Homo sapiens: one gene and its partners. The protein of the gene in region 1 interacts with the protein of each later gene in a pairwise test. Each region holds a gene or a part of one and is shown on either strand. Other genes may lie near its edges.

Region 1 (4,757 bases):
GGCCTGATGGCTGAGAAGGACCCAGGACCTGAGTTTGCCAGGCAAGCCGAGGAAACGGTCCTGTAAAAGGGGGAGTGGCATGTGGACTCTGGTTATGAGTTCAGGGTGGCTGGGTGTAAGGCAGGATATCACCAGGAGTCGGAGCTGGGAGAGGTGGGAAATGGCCAGAAGCAACATCCAGGAGCACCGGGCATCCCTTGCTTACCCTCCTCACCCTTGCGCAGCAGGCAGTATCAGCCCTGCCTGAAACTTGCTCTGCAGATTGTGGGAAGAGAGTGGATCCATGTTCTAGACCCAACAAACGAACACGTGCAGTTCCCAAGCCTTCCTCACTCCCTGTTTATGGGAGACTCCGTGTTTCTCACATTTCTTTTAGTCTTAGAGACAATTTGGTCAGAAGACATGGGTTTAAATGAAGGGACAGAGGCTGGGCATGGCGGCTTACACCTGTAATCCCAGCATTTTGGAAGGCTGAGGCAGAAGGATGCCTTCAGGTCAGGAGTTCGAGACCAGCCCAGCCAACATGGTGAAACCCCGTCTCTATGAAAAATACAAAAATTAGCTGGGTGTGGTGGCAGGCACCTGTAATCACAGCTGCTGGGGAGGCTGAGGCATGAGAATCACTTGAACCTGGGAGGTAGAGGTTTCACCGAGCTAAGATCACCCCACTGCACTCCAGCCTGGGCGACAGAGCAAGACTCCATCTCAAAAAAAAAAAAAAAAAAAAAAGTCTTGGCATGGTGGCTCATAGCTGTAATCCCAGCACTTTGGGAGGCCAAGGTGGGTGGATTGCTTGAGCTCAGGAGCTCAAGACCAGCCTGGGCAACATGGTGAAACTGTCTCTACCAAAAATAGAAAAAAATTAGCTGGGCATGGTGGCACATGCTTATAGTCCCAGCTGCTAGGTAGGCTGAGGTGGGAGGATCACTTGAGCCCAGGGGGTTGAGGCTGCACTGAGTCGAAATCATGCCACTGCACTCCAGCCTGGGTGACAGAGTGAAACTCTGACTCAAAAAAAAAAGACACATTACTTGGCCCCCATAATTGGTTTCTGATTGGCAGGTCTGGTGTGGGGTCTAAGAACCTGCATTTCTGACCATTTCCCAGGTGGACCATTGACTTTCTACTGGGAATGGGTTGGACCATTTTCCAACCAACACTGCTGGTCCCCAAACCTGCACTCTAGAAGCACCACTATAGAGCGTTTCCCCTTCTAGGAAGGAGATGGGTCCTCCCTGAAGGGGCTGTGCAGGGGAGGGGATGATGGGCATTGATGGGCATTGTGACTGCAGTCCTGCACTGTGGATCTGGCTGGGCAAACATAGATAGGATGGAGGGGTGGGGTGGGCCACGTGATACCTCACTCTCTTGTACTGTGAACTGTCACCTGCAGAGCAGAGATGCCGCAGGCCCGGCCCTTAGAAGGCGCATTCAGCCCCATCTCCTTCAAGCCAGGCCTCCACCAGGCTGACATCAAGCTGACCGTGTGGAAAAGGCTCTTCCGGAAAGTTTTGCCAGGTGAGGCCCTGACCCGTCCTCCTTCCTGAGGGCTGCCGCCCAGGGCAGGTGGCAGTTCATCGATTGTATCAGAGAGATAATAAGCTACAGAGAACTCAGATGGAGGTTTGTGGAGGGTCCTAGTGAGAGCATGGGACTGAGTTTCCGAACAGCTTGGGTTCCTGCTTACTCTTTCCTTTCCTAGCTGCTGGCTGGGCAAGTTGTGTCATTTCTGAGCCCAGGTTCCTCATCTGTAAAGTGGGGCTATTTGCACCCACCCGGCCAGGCTGCAGAGCTTGTATATAGACATACGTGTGTTGCAGCTTAGTGCTTCATAAATGGTATTAGGTTGGTGCAAAAGTAATTGCAGTTTTTGCCATTACTTTTAAAAGTAATGTACTTTTTGTCTGGGCACAGTGGCTCATGCCTGTAATCCCAGCATTTTGGGAGGCTGAGGAGGGCGGATCTTCTGAGGTCAGGAGTTCAAGTCCAGCTTGGCCAACATGGTGAAACCCCGTCTCTACTAATAATACAAGAATTAGCTGGGCGTGGTAGTGTGCGCCTGTAATCCCAGCTACTCAGGAGCCTGAAGCAGGAGAATCACTTGAACCAGGGAGGTGGAGGTTGCAGTGAGTTGATATCGTGCCATTGCACTCCAGCCTGGGCAACAAGAGCAAAACTCCGTCTCAAAAAAAAAAAAAAAAGTAATATCCTTTTAAAAATGTCCTTCCTACTCAAAGGACAAGTGGTCTTCAAAGTAATGGCAAAAACCGCAATTACTTTTGAACCAACCTATTCTTGTTCTCTGTCAAAAACAACTCAAACACATTTCATTCCTTTATTACTAGCATGCTGTCTTGTACATAAGGGAGACTGCTAACAGAGCGATTTCATCCACCAAAAGCAAAAATAGGGTTTATATAAAAGAAGGGGCTGGGCACGGCGGCTCACGCCTGCAATCCCAGCACCTTGGGAGGCCAAGGTGGGAGGACTGCTTGAGGCCAGGAGTTCAAAACCAGCCTGGGTAACATAGTGAGACGCCATCTCTACAAAAAATAATTAGTGGGGTGTGGTGTTATGTGCCTGTGGGCCCAGCTACTGAGGAGGCTGAGGCAGGAGGATTGCTTGAGCCCAGGAGTTGGGAGGCTGCAGTGAGCTATGATTGCACCACTGCACTCCAGCCTGGGTGACAGAGGAGACCTCATCAGTAAAAAAGAAAAGAATGAAAAAAAAAAAAAAGGAAAGATAAGAAGGAAAAAAATTGCAGTTTGTGAACTGTGAATCCTGTTTGTACATCTCACATTTCTTTTTTTTTTTTTGAAGGAAAATTTGTATTATTTTCATGTACAGAAAACTCAACAGTGTACGTTTTACCCAGTTTAGTGGTAGTTTCTTTAGTCTTTGCCTTTTTGAGCTTGGCAATGTGAGCCACAGACTTGGGACCCAGGACACTGCCTCCCCAGTGATGGCGGATCTCATCACATTTGTTGTTGTAATTGGTCCTGGTAGCTTCCACCAGCTTAGCCCAAGCTCCTTTGTCTTCCAAGTTAACCTGTGTGAAGGCGACAGTGGTGCAGGTCTTCCTGGGGACTAGACATCCCAGTCTTGCCTTCCCCTTGATGATGCAGTCAGGGACCCCACTTTACACACAGGCACAGGCAGGAAGACAGCCAGCTTGATGGGACCCATGTTGCGTGGAGTCACCACCAGCTGAGCCTTCCTTTTTTTTTTTTTTTTTTTGAGACAGAGTCTCTGTCACCCAGGCTGGAGTGCAGTGGTGTGATCTCAGCTCACTGCAACCTCTGGCTCCTGGGTACAAGTGATTCTTCTGCCTCAGCCTCCTGAGTAGTTGGGACTATAGGCGTGTGCCACCACGCCCGGCTAATTTTTGTATTTTAGTAGAGACGGGGTTTTTCATTATGTTGGCCAGGCTGCTTGCAAACTCCTGGCCTCAAGTGATCTGCCTGTCTCAGCCTCCCAAAGTGCTGAGATGACAGGCATGAGCCACTGTGCCTGGCCCAGCTGAGCGTTCTTGTTCTCCATCAAGGTGGTGACGGTGTTAATTCCTGCTCCAAGGACAGGTGGCCTCTTAGTGGGGACATCCCCTTTGCTGGCAGCTTTCTTCTCAGTCAGGGCCAACAGTCTCTGCTTCTTCTCTTGCTTTGCCCCTGGTCTGTACTTCTGGGCCAGCTTAAGCAGCTGAATAGCTGTTTGGCGGTCCAGGGCCTGGGTGAACTGGTTAATAGCAGGAGACAGTTTCTGCTACTTATAGAGGATGGCTGTCCGCCACTGCACCCTGACCGAGCAGGACCATTGCACAAAGTGGGCGAGGTCCGTTTTGGCCTGGAAGTCCTGTCCAGTGCCAAAAGTCTTAGGCCTTTTCTCAAACGGGATAAACCACTTTCTTGGCCTCCTGCTTCTTCACGCCAGCAGGGGCCGGAGCCACCTTCTTCCCCTTGGCCTTCTTTCCTTGCGGCAACTTGGGTGGCGGGAAGGGGTGGGAGGCGGGCAGGGGGGAGCACATCTCACATTTCTGGGGTAAACGGATCAGCTGGTAACTAGCAAAAAGCTCAGGTGGGCTAGTTCGTCCTTGAATAGGCTGACTAGGCTAGCAAATCCAACAGCTGCAGTTGTTATGGGTTCTCCAGAAATCCCTGAGGGCTGAGCTATAGGCTCACAGGACAGGTGTCTTCCGGGTCCTTCCCACAACACCTCTGTGTCAGGCAGGCAGGCCAGAACCCCGAGCCCAGTGTCCATTTCTTTCTCCAGCCACCTCAGCCCCCCACAGCCCACCAAGCTGCTCCCTTTTATATAAACACTGTTTTTGCCTTGGGTGGATGCAATCAGTCTGTGATTGATCTTCCTTATGTAAAACTTCATTCATTCATTCATTCATTCATTCATTCATTCATTCAGGGAGCAGCCCTGTACTGGCCCCTTCTAGACCCTGGGGCTAGAGAGATGAGGAAGACACAGCCCCTCTCCTTGGGGAGTTCAGGGCCTCCATCAGCTTCTGTGGGCCGGGTCTGCTGCCCTCCACGTGGCCTCACAGACCCTCTGTGATCTCCCTCCCAGCCCCGGAGCCTCTCAAGTTGGACCCTGCCACTGCCCACCCACTCCTGGAGCTCTCCAAGGGCAACACGGTGGTGCAGTGCGGGCTTCTGGCCCAGCGGCGAGCCAGCCAGCCTGAGCGCTTCGACTACAGCACCTGCGTCCTGGCCAGCCGCGGCTTCTCCTGCGGCCGCCACTACTGGGAGGTG
Region 2 (4,467 bases), on another chromosome or scaffold:
GGACAGCTGGACTTCAGAGGAAAGATAGCTTAACTTCAGAGGGACGCTCTGACTTCAGGGAAGATTACCTGACCATCCCATCCCCCTTTCCAGCTCCTCTCTCCACTGAGAGACATCCATCGCTAAATAAAATTATCTGCCTCCACCATCCTTCAAGTGTCAGCATGACCTCGTTCTTCTTGGACACCACACAAGGGCTTGGGACCCACTGGATGCAGGTACCCAAAAAAGGCTGTCACACTAGCCCTTTGCCCTTGCTGGTGGAGTGTAGACACCCCACATGACAAGACAAGGGGCCCACTGAGCTGATAACACTGCTGTCCATAAACGGTAAAGCTAAGCTAAGAGGGCATTGTAGCATGCCCTCTGGGATTCTGGGGATCACAGGCACTCCCACCTGGGCACCGCCACAGGGTGTGCATGGAGCTTGCTCCTGCCGGCACCCAAAGCAGCCAGCCTGAACCCACTCGCTTGCTCACGTGCTCCCTCCTGCAAGGGGTTGAGTGTGGCAGGCTGAGTAAACAGGGCACCCCCATTGCAAATCTGACAAAGGGGTCGAGAAAAATCCTGCATCATCAGGTCAAGAAAAACTGATCCCCGAGAGCCAGGAAACAATTGCAATGAGCCCTATTGAAACAACTGCGATGAGCTCTATGTGAGGACAGATCCTTGCAGAGATTTCCAGAATACTGGAAAAGAGAGCTACACACAGACACAGCACAACAGAGAGGGTCCTCGCTGGGTTATTTACCTTTGTAATGATCAGCACAGGCAAGTGAGGAAACACCCCAAGACCAGGGAAAGGTCCAAGGTACACTACAGTCACAGAAGAACGGGAATATTGCCTGTTCCCATTAGCTAGGGTAAAAAAACTCATAATCCACAAAGGAATGGGTAGAGTACACAGAAGGGTCTTGCCTTAGTAGGGGGGAATACTTAATTCTAAACTGTGCATTTCTCTGGTTTCACGTAAATCTTAAAGCAAGACATGAAAGAATCAAACTGTTTCAAACTATTTTAACTATGTACCAGAAAAAATCACAAAATATTTATAGAAATACAAAAATATCTACCACCCAATAAAGTAAAATTCATAATGACTGACATCTAATAAAAATTATCAAGCATGCAGAAACGCAGAAAAATATGATCCATAATTTAGAAAACAATCAAAACTGAGCAGGACTGACATATATTAGAATTAGCAGACAAGGACATTAAGTGTGTAACTAGATTTCATGTGCTCAAAATGTTAAGTACAGGTAGAAAAGACATGAAAAAATTCAAATAAAATTTCTAGAGATAAAAACTATAATGTATAAGATGAAAAATATACTGCATGAAATTAATGGCACATTAGACACGTCAGAAGAAAATATTAGCAAATCTGAAGGCACAGCTATTGAGACTACACAGAATGGAGAAGACAGTAAAATTAAAAAAACAAAAAACAAAAATCAGAATTGAGAGCATCAGTGAGCTGCAGGCCAACTTTAAGAAGATTAACATACCAGTATTTGAAGAGGGGAGAGATGGAAGGGCAAAAAAATTATTTTAAGAAAGAATGGCAGAACATTTTCCAAATTTGATGAAGCTGTGAACACACAGATCCAAACATCTCAAAACACTGATTCACGAGAAACATGAAAACATATTAAGGTATATCATTGCCAAACTGCTCAAAACTGGTGAAAAAAAAAAGTTTTTAAAGCACCCAGAGAAAAAGACACATTGCATATAAAGGAACAATGATAAGGATAACAACAGATTTCTTACTATTAATAAAATGATGCAAGTCTGGCTGGACGCGGAGGCTCACACCTGGAATCCCAGCACTTTGGGAGACCAAGGCGGGCAGATCACCTCAGGTTGGGAGTTTGAGACCAGCCTGACCAACATGGAGAAACCCTGTCTCTACTAAAAATACAAAAATTAGCTGGGCATGGTGGTGCATGCCTGTAATTCCAGGTACTCGGGAGGCTGAGGCAGGAGAATCGCTTGAACCCAGGAGGCGGAGGCTGCAGTGAGCCGAGATTGTGCTATTGCACTCCAGCCTGGGCAACAAGAGCAAAATTCTATCTAAAAAAAAAAAAAAAAAGAAAAAGAAAAAAACAAAAACAAAAATAATGCAAGTCTGAAGACAATAAACAATAATAACAACTGTAATCTAGAATTCTTAGACCTCTAGGCCCTGATGTCTTCTCTGGTGACTTCTACTGAATATTTAAGGAGGAAATTATACCAATTATATATAAATCCTTCCAGAAAATTGAAAAGGAGGAAATGTTTACTATCTAAAAAGGCCGGATTATCTAGATATCAAAACCAGACAAATCCAGACATAGAAAAGATTCCTATGTCCCAATATCCCTCATAAGCACAGATGCAAAAGTAATAAACAAACTACTAGTAAATCAAATCCAACAATATGAGAATACGTCATGACCAAGTAGAGATATCCAGGAATACACAACTGGTTTAACATTCAAAATAAATGCAATTTACCATCTTAATGTTATAAAAGAAAACTACATGATTATTTAAACAGACACAAAAATTGTATGTGATAAAATCCAACATCCATTACTGATTAAAAAAAAACAACCCTTTATAAATTAAGAATAGAAAGGAACTCCTCACTCTGGTGAAACACATCTTATGAGAAACCTAAAGCTAAAATCATGCTAAATAATGAAAGACTGAATGCTTTCCCTCCAAGTTCACAAACAAGAGAAGGATATCTATTCTCACCACTTCTATTCAACCCTGTATTGGAAGTTCTAGCCAGTGCAATAGAGCAAAAATAAATAAAATGTATTCAGATTGTGAAGCAAGACTTAAAATGGTCTTTATCTGCAGATGACATGATTGTCTAATTAGAAAATTCAATAGAATCTACAAAAAAAGCTCTTCTAATAACTGAGTTTAGCAAGGTTACACAATACAAAATCAATATGCAAAAATAAATTATATTTTTGTATCCTAGAAATAATCAGAAATTGAGACAATAAATCAGAAATTGAGACACCATTTATAACAGCATAAAAATGAAATAATTAAGGATAAGCCTGGCAAAGTATGTGAAAGACCTATACACTGAAAACTAAAAAACACTCATAGAGAGAAATTTTAAAAGATCTAAACAAATGAAGAGATATATACCACATTCAAAGGTTGGAAGACTCGATGTTGTTAAAATGGCAATTCTCTTCAAATAAATATATAAATTCAATGTGATCCTAATCAAAATCCCAGTAGACTTTTTGTAGAAATTAACCAATTTAATTTTTAAAATTCACATGAAAATAGAGCTCAGAATAATCAAAATTTTCTTAAAAAAGAAGAAAGAAATCAGACTAATGCTACTTTAGTTTCAAGAAAGAGATATATAGATCAATGCAACAAAATAGAGAGTCCATAAATAAATCTACACAGATATGTATTTTCATGAGAGTCCAAAGGGAAAGCTGTGGAACATGAATAGTCCCTTCAACAAAGGATGATGCTTTCTCTGTATGCAAAAAACAAAAAAGAACTTTGAGCCACACCTCACACCATATACAAAATTTGAAATGCATCATATACCCAAATGTAAAACACAAAACTTCTGAAATATAAAACTTCTAAAAGAAAATACTGTGCCCTTTAGTCAGGCAAAGGTATCTTGGACATGGCATCTGAAACATAATCCATAAAATAACAAACTAATATGCTAAACTTCATCAAAATTGCAAAATTCTGCTCTTCAAAAGATATCAATAAGACAATGAAAAGACGAGCCATAAATGGGAGAAACTATTTGAAAATAATCTGATAAAGAAATTGTATATAAAAACTCTCAAAACTAAATAAGAAAACAAATCTCCCAATTTACAATGGGCTAAAGAGGTGAACATACACTTCTCCAAAAAAGATAACTGGCCTGCAAATAAGAACATAAGAAGATGTTCAACATCACTGGTTATTAAGAAAAGATACACCTGCCTTAGGATCCAGCTAATCCCTTCCTACCAACCCAAGAGAAACAAAAGCAAATGTCTATACAAAAACTTGTACAAAGAATGTTCACAGCAGCTATATTTGTAGTAGTTCCAAGCCAGAAACAACCCAAATGTTCACCAACAGATGGAATATATAAACATACAATGGAACATTACTCAGCATTTTAAAGGAACTGTTGACCTACATCACAATAGAAATGAAGAAACATGATGCTATACGAAAGAAGATAGACATTAAAGAGCAATACTCTATGATTCTACTTGCATAAGATTTTAGAGACTATAAACTATAGTGGCAGAAAGCAGATCAATGGTTGCCTGGGGACAGGGGAGACAGAGAAGGTTGGGGGGACAGACTCTATAAGCAGACCTGAGAAACAACATATACCCATCCATCGAGGTGAAGAATATATTCATTATCTTGATTATGATTAAGGTTCCAAGGGTATATACGTATATCAAAATT
Region 3 (4,467 bases), on another chromosome or scaffold:
TTGCTAGGTCCACCCAGATCAATCAGGATCATCTCCCCATCTCGAAGTTTAACTTTATCACATCTCAGAGTTCCTTTTGCCACGTAAGGTAACATATTCACAGGTTCTGAGAATCCGGACATGGACATCTTTGAGGGTCTATTGTTGTGCCTACTATATCCATGAATAATAATGATAATAAGCACCATTTTTTGAGAGTTTGCCATGTCAGATATTCTTTTAAACTGTATTTTATCTCGCTGCCTCCTGAAAAAATCCTTCCAGGTGTATATTGTCCCCATTTTTACAGATGAGAGAACTGAGGCCCAGAAAGGCTAAATGGCTTGCCCAAGTGTATGGTGGACCCAGGTTTTCAAACTCAGGTGTGTCTGGCTTCAGAGACTGGGCTCCTGAGCCCTTAAGCCCTTTGTTCCCCTTTAGAAAAAGTCACCTGAGGCTGAGTGGTGAAGGGATTTATCCAAAGCCACCCGGCCACTATGGCAGGACAGATATCAGAATACAGGTCTTCCGATCCCAGCCCAGAGCCCCTTCCCGTCATCTAGAACTCCTCCTGGTGTCAGTAATGATAACGGCAGTCACTGATGTCTTTTGAGCACTTACTTTGTGTTGAGCACTTACACTGTGCTAAGCACTTGACATAGGTCATCTTAGTTGATCCGTGTAAAACTCTGTGAGGTAGTGACCAACATTTCTCCCACCTTACAGAGGTGGAAACTGAGGGTTAGGAAGTTTCCTTGACTGTCCTCAAAGTGCACAGCTTGTGAATGGAGGAGCCAGGATGGGCGCCCGCTGGCTCTCCTATCCCTTCAGTTATGTCAGCGTCCCCCGCAGCAGCCCATTGTCTGGTTAGGTCCCGTCTTCACCATGGTGCCACCTTCATCTGCCTCTTCTTCTGCCTTCCAGCTGCCACATGCAAGAAGTATATGGCCAAGCTGAGGACCACGGTGTCTGCTCAGTCTCGCTTCCTCAGTACCTATGATGGAGCAGAGACGCTCTGCCTGGAGGACATATACACAGAGAATGTCCTGGAGGTCTGGGCAGATGTGGGCATGGCTGGACCCCCGCAGAAGAGCCCAGCCACCCTGGGCCTGGAGGAGCTCTTCAGCACCCCTGGCCACCTCAATGACGATGCGGACACTGTGCTGGTGGTGGGTGAGGCGGGCAGTGGCAAGAGCACGCTCCTGCAGCGGCTGCACTTGCTGTGGGCTGCAGGGCAAGACTTCCAGGAATTTCTCTTTGTCTTCCCATTCAGCTGCCGGCAGCTGCAGTGCATGGCCAAACCACTCTCTGTGCGGACTCTACTCTTTGAGCACTGCTGTTGGCCTGATGTTGGTCAAGAAGACATCTTCCAGTTACTCCTTGACCACCCTGACCGTGTCCTGTTAACCTTTGATGGCTTTGACGAGTTCAAGTTCAGGTTCACGGATCGTGAACGCCACTGCTCCCCGACCGACCCCACCTCTGTCCAGACCCTGCTCTTCAACCTTCTGCAGGGCAACCTGCTGAAGAATGCCCGCAAGGTGGTGACCAGCCGTCCGGCCGCTGTGTCGGCGTTCCTCAGGAAGTACATCCGCACCGAGTTCAACCTCAAGGGCTTCTCTGAACAGGGCATCGAGCTGTACCTGAGGAAGCGCCATCATGAGCCCGGGGTGGCGGACCGCCTCATCCGCCTGCTCCAAGAGACCTCAGCCCTGCACGGTTTGTGCCACCTGCCTGTCTTCTCATGGATGGTGTCCAAATGCCACCAGGAACTGTTGCTGCAGGAGGGGGGGTCCCCAAAGACCACTACAGATATGTACCTGCTGATTCTGCAGCATTTTCTGCTGCATGCCACCCCCCCAGACTCAGCTTCCCAAGGTCTGGGACCCAGTCTTCTTCGGGGCCGCCTCCCCACCCTCCTGCACCTGGGCAGACTGGCTCTGTGGGGCCTGGGCATGTGCTGCTACGTGTTCTCAGCCCAGCAGCTCCAGGCAGCACAGGTCAGCCCTGATGACATTTCTCTTGGCTTCCTGGTGCGTGCCAAAGGTGTCGTGCCAGGGAGTACGGCGCCCCTGGAATTCCTTCACATCACTTTCCAGTGCTTCTTTGCCGCGTTCTACCTGGCACTCAGTGCTGATGTGCCACCAGCTTTGCTCAGACACCTCTTCAATTGTGGCAGGCCAGGCAACTCACCAATGGCCAGGCTCCTGCCCACGATGTGCATCCAGGCCTCGGAGGGAAAGGACAGCAGCGTGGCAGCTTTGCTGCAGAAGGCCGAGCCGCACAACCTTCAGATCACAGCAGCCTTCCTGGCAGGGCTGTTGTCCCGGGAGCACTGGGGCCTGCTGGCTGAGTGCCAGACATCTGAGAAGGCCCTGCTCCGGCGCCAGGCCTGTGCCCGCTGGTGTCTGGCCCGCAGCCTCCGCAAGCACTTCCACTCCATCCCGCCAGCTGCACCGGGTGAGGCCAAGAGCGTGCATGCCATGCCCGGGTTCATCTGGCTCATCCGGAGCCTGTACGAGATGCAGGAGGAGCGGCTGGCTCGGAAGGCTGCACGTGGCCTGAATGTTGGGCACCTCAAGTTGACATTTTGCAGTGTGGGCCCCACTGAGTGTGCTGCCCTGGCCTTTGTGCTGCAGCACCTCCGGCGGCCCGTGGCCCTGCAGCTGGACTACAACTCTGTGGGTGACATTGGCGTGGAGCAGCTGCTGCCTTGCCTTGGTGTCTGCAAGGCTCTGTAGTGAGTGTTACTGGGCATTGCTGTTCAGGTATGGGGGAGCACCATCAAGGCTAAGTGTGGGAGCACCGAGCTGGGCTCTAGAAGTCTGGGCCCAGCTTCGCCTCTGCCACCCTGCTTTGCAACACTGCCCAGATCCCTTCCCTTCTGGGCCTTAATTTCAATATGTGATGATGACAGCCACACTTTATTGACTGGCCTATGTGCTGGGTCTGGTGCTATGCTTTCCGGAATGACCTCATCTAATCTCTACAACCACCCTGGCGGGTAGGCAGGAATGTTATTATCTCCATTATCCTTGACTTGAGGCTCAGAGAAGTGAAGTAACTTGTCCAGGAAATGGCAGAGCTGGGGTTCACAAATTGCATCATTCTGATTACAGGTTTTCTGCCTCCCACCAGTCTATGGATACACTTCAGAGGCTCCCTGAAAACCTTGAGGTCACTTGCAGAAAGTTTTGTGTAGTATGTGTCCGTATCAGGAACAACACCAAATCAGAGGTGACTTGTGCCCCATCAGAGACTTTAACACCCCAACCAGATGGGAATTTCAGGACCCAAGAAATAGAAAGTGGCTGCAGGGTTACAACTACTGTTGGATTCCTGAGGTAGCACAGTGTCCAAACAGGATTTCAGCACTACCCGTATTGCTTAGAGCCCCAGCCAAAGATGTGAGGTTTTGCCCTTTGGAGAATCTGTGCCCCTGAACTCGGGGGCCTCTTTCCACATCTTGGGGGCAGGCAAGGGCAGAGGGTGTGCCTAGGCCTGCGGATCAGCATGCGACAGATTCCCCAACATCCTTCCAGCTTGAAAGGGGATTGCCCTGCTTCTATTTAGAACCTATAGGAAAGCAGAAGTTCTAGATTGAAGTTAAAATTGATTCCCAGCCTCCAGGGGCTTTGGGCTACACCTGGATGACCTTAATTGACCCTAAGCATGGGACAAACCACTTCCTGAGAGTATTAGGATGGTATACATCTTCTCTGGGGGCAAAGCAACAAGATTTATTTTTCATCATGGACCAAACACATGGATACCCACTAGAAACTGTGTAGTGAATTTTGTTAACCCTGACATAGGGACCATGGTCTTTAGGTTAAAGCATAATAACAACATAATACATAACATATATAGCGAATATATATATGTATTATATGCAATGAATGTAAATATGATTATACCCATCATGGTCTTGGAGGAAACAGATGACACACTTAAAATGGGTGTTTTGAGGAGAGTTTGAAAAACAGATTGTTTACAAGCCATGGGCAGGAGTTAGGAAGAGTGAGAGGGTTGGTGCAGGGGCCTGGGGTTAGTAACAGCTGGGGGAGGGTAGACTTGAAGGGGGAAGGGGAGGGAGACTAATTAGCTGGGGGGAAGGTATGGAGACGGCTGCCTGAGCTTCTGCAAAGTGGAAGAATACCGCTTGGCCCTAACTCCTCACCCCAACTCTTGCTCCTGGCCAGCGCCTTCCACCAGCTGGACCCATCAGGGAGGCCGAGTGGGCTGTCTGCTGGAGTAGTCCCCAGGCATCAGCCTCCCAGGAGCCAGGGACGGGTAGAGAAGGGGGAGAGTGGATCTGGCCAGGCAAATGGAAAACAGCCAGCACCAAACTCTATTTCCCTAGGAGGGAGGATCATGATACTTTGAGTGGGAATTTGGAAACCTGTCTGTTGGAGCAATTTCCCTGATAGAAATAAGAATGTGCATTTTCCTGGGTAGTAGACTCAGTTTTTACCCCAAGAGGCCAGG

Evidence for each region.
Region 2: the proteins of TRIM50 (region 1) and ZNF438 interact in binary tests that used the Homo sapiens proteins (3 or more experiments, as listed by UniProt).
Region 3: the proteins of TRIM50 (region 1) and NOD2 interact in a two-hybrid assay, tested with the Homo sapiens proteins (one study listed by IntAct).

The regions. Positions count from the first base shown.
Region 1 is NC_000007.14:73,313,326-73,318,082, reverse strand, and holds part of TRIM50 (E3 ubiquitin-protein ligase TRIM50), read left to right. Parts: intron 1-1,393; coding exon 1,394-1,518; intron 1,519-4,413; coding exon of another isoform or gene 4,414-4,454; exon of another isoform or gene 4,455-4,572; coding exon 4,573-4,757. UniProt on the Homo sapiens protein: E3 ubiquitin-protein ligase that ubiquitinates Beclin-1/BECN1 in a 'Lys-63'-dependent manner enhancing its binding to ULK1. In turn, promotes starvation-induced autophagy activation.
Region 2 is NC_000010.11:30,878,350-30,882,816, forward strand, and holds part of ZNF438 (zinc finger protein 438), read right to left. Parts: intron 1-4,467. UniProt on the Homo sapiens protein: Isoform 1 acts as a transcriptional repressor.
Region 3 is NC_000016.10:50,709,655-50,714,121, forward strand, and holds part of NOD2 (nucleotide-binding oligomerization domain-containing protein 2), read left to right. Parts: intron 1-289; coding exon of another isoform or gene 290-362; intron 363-903; coding exon 904-2,719; coding exon of another isoform or gene 2,720-2,720; exon of another isoform or gene 2,721-2,983; intron 2,984-3,098; coding exon of another isoform or gene 3,099-3,099; exon of another isoform or gene 3,100-3,935; intron 3,936-4,467. UniProt on the Homo sapiens protein: Pattern recognition receptor (PRR) that detects bacterial peptidoglycan fragments and other danger signals and plays an important role in gastrointestinal immunity.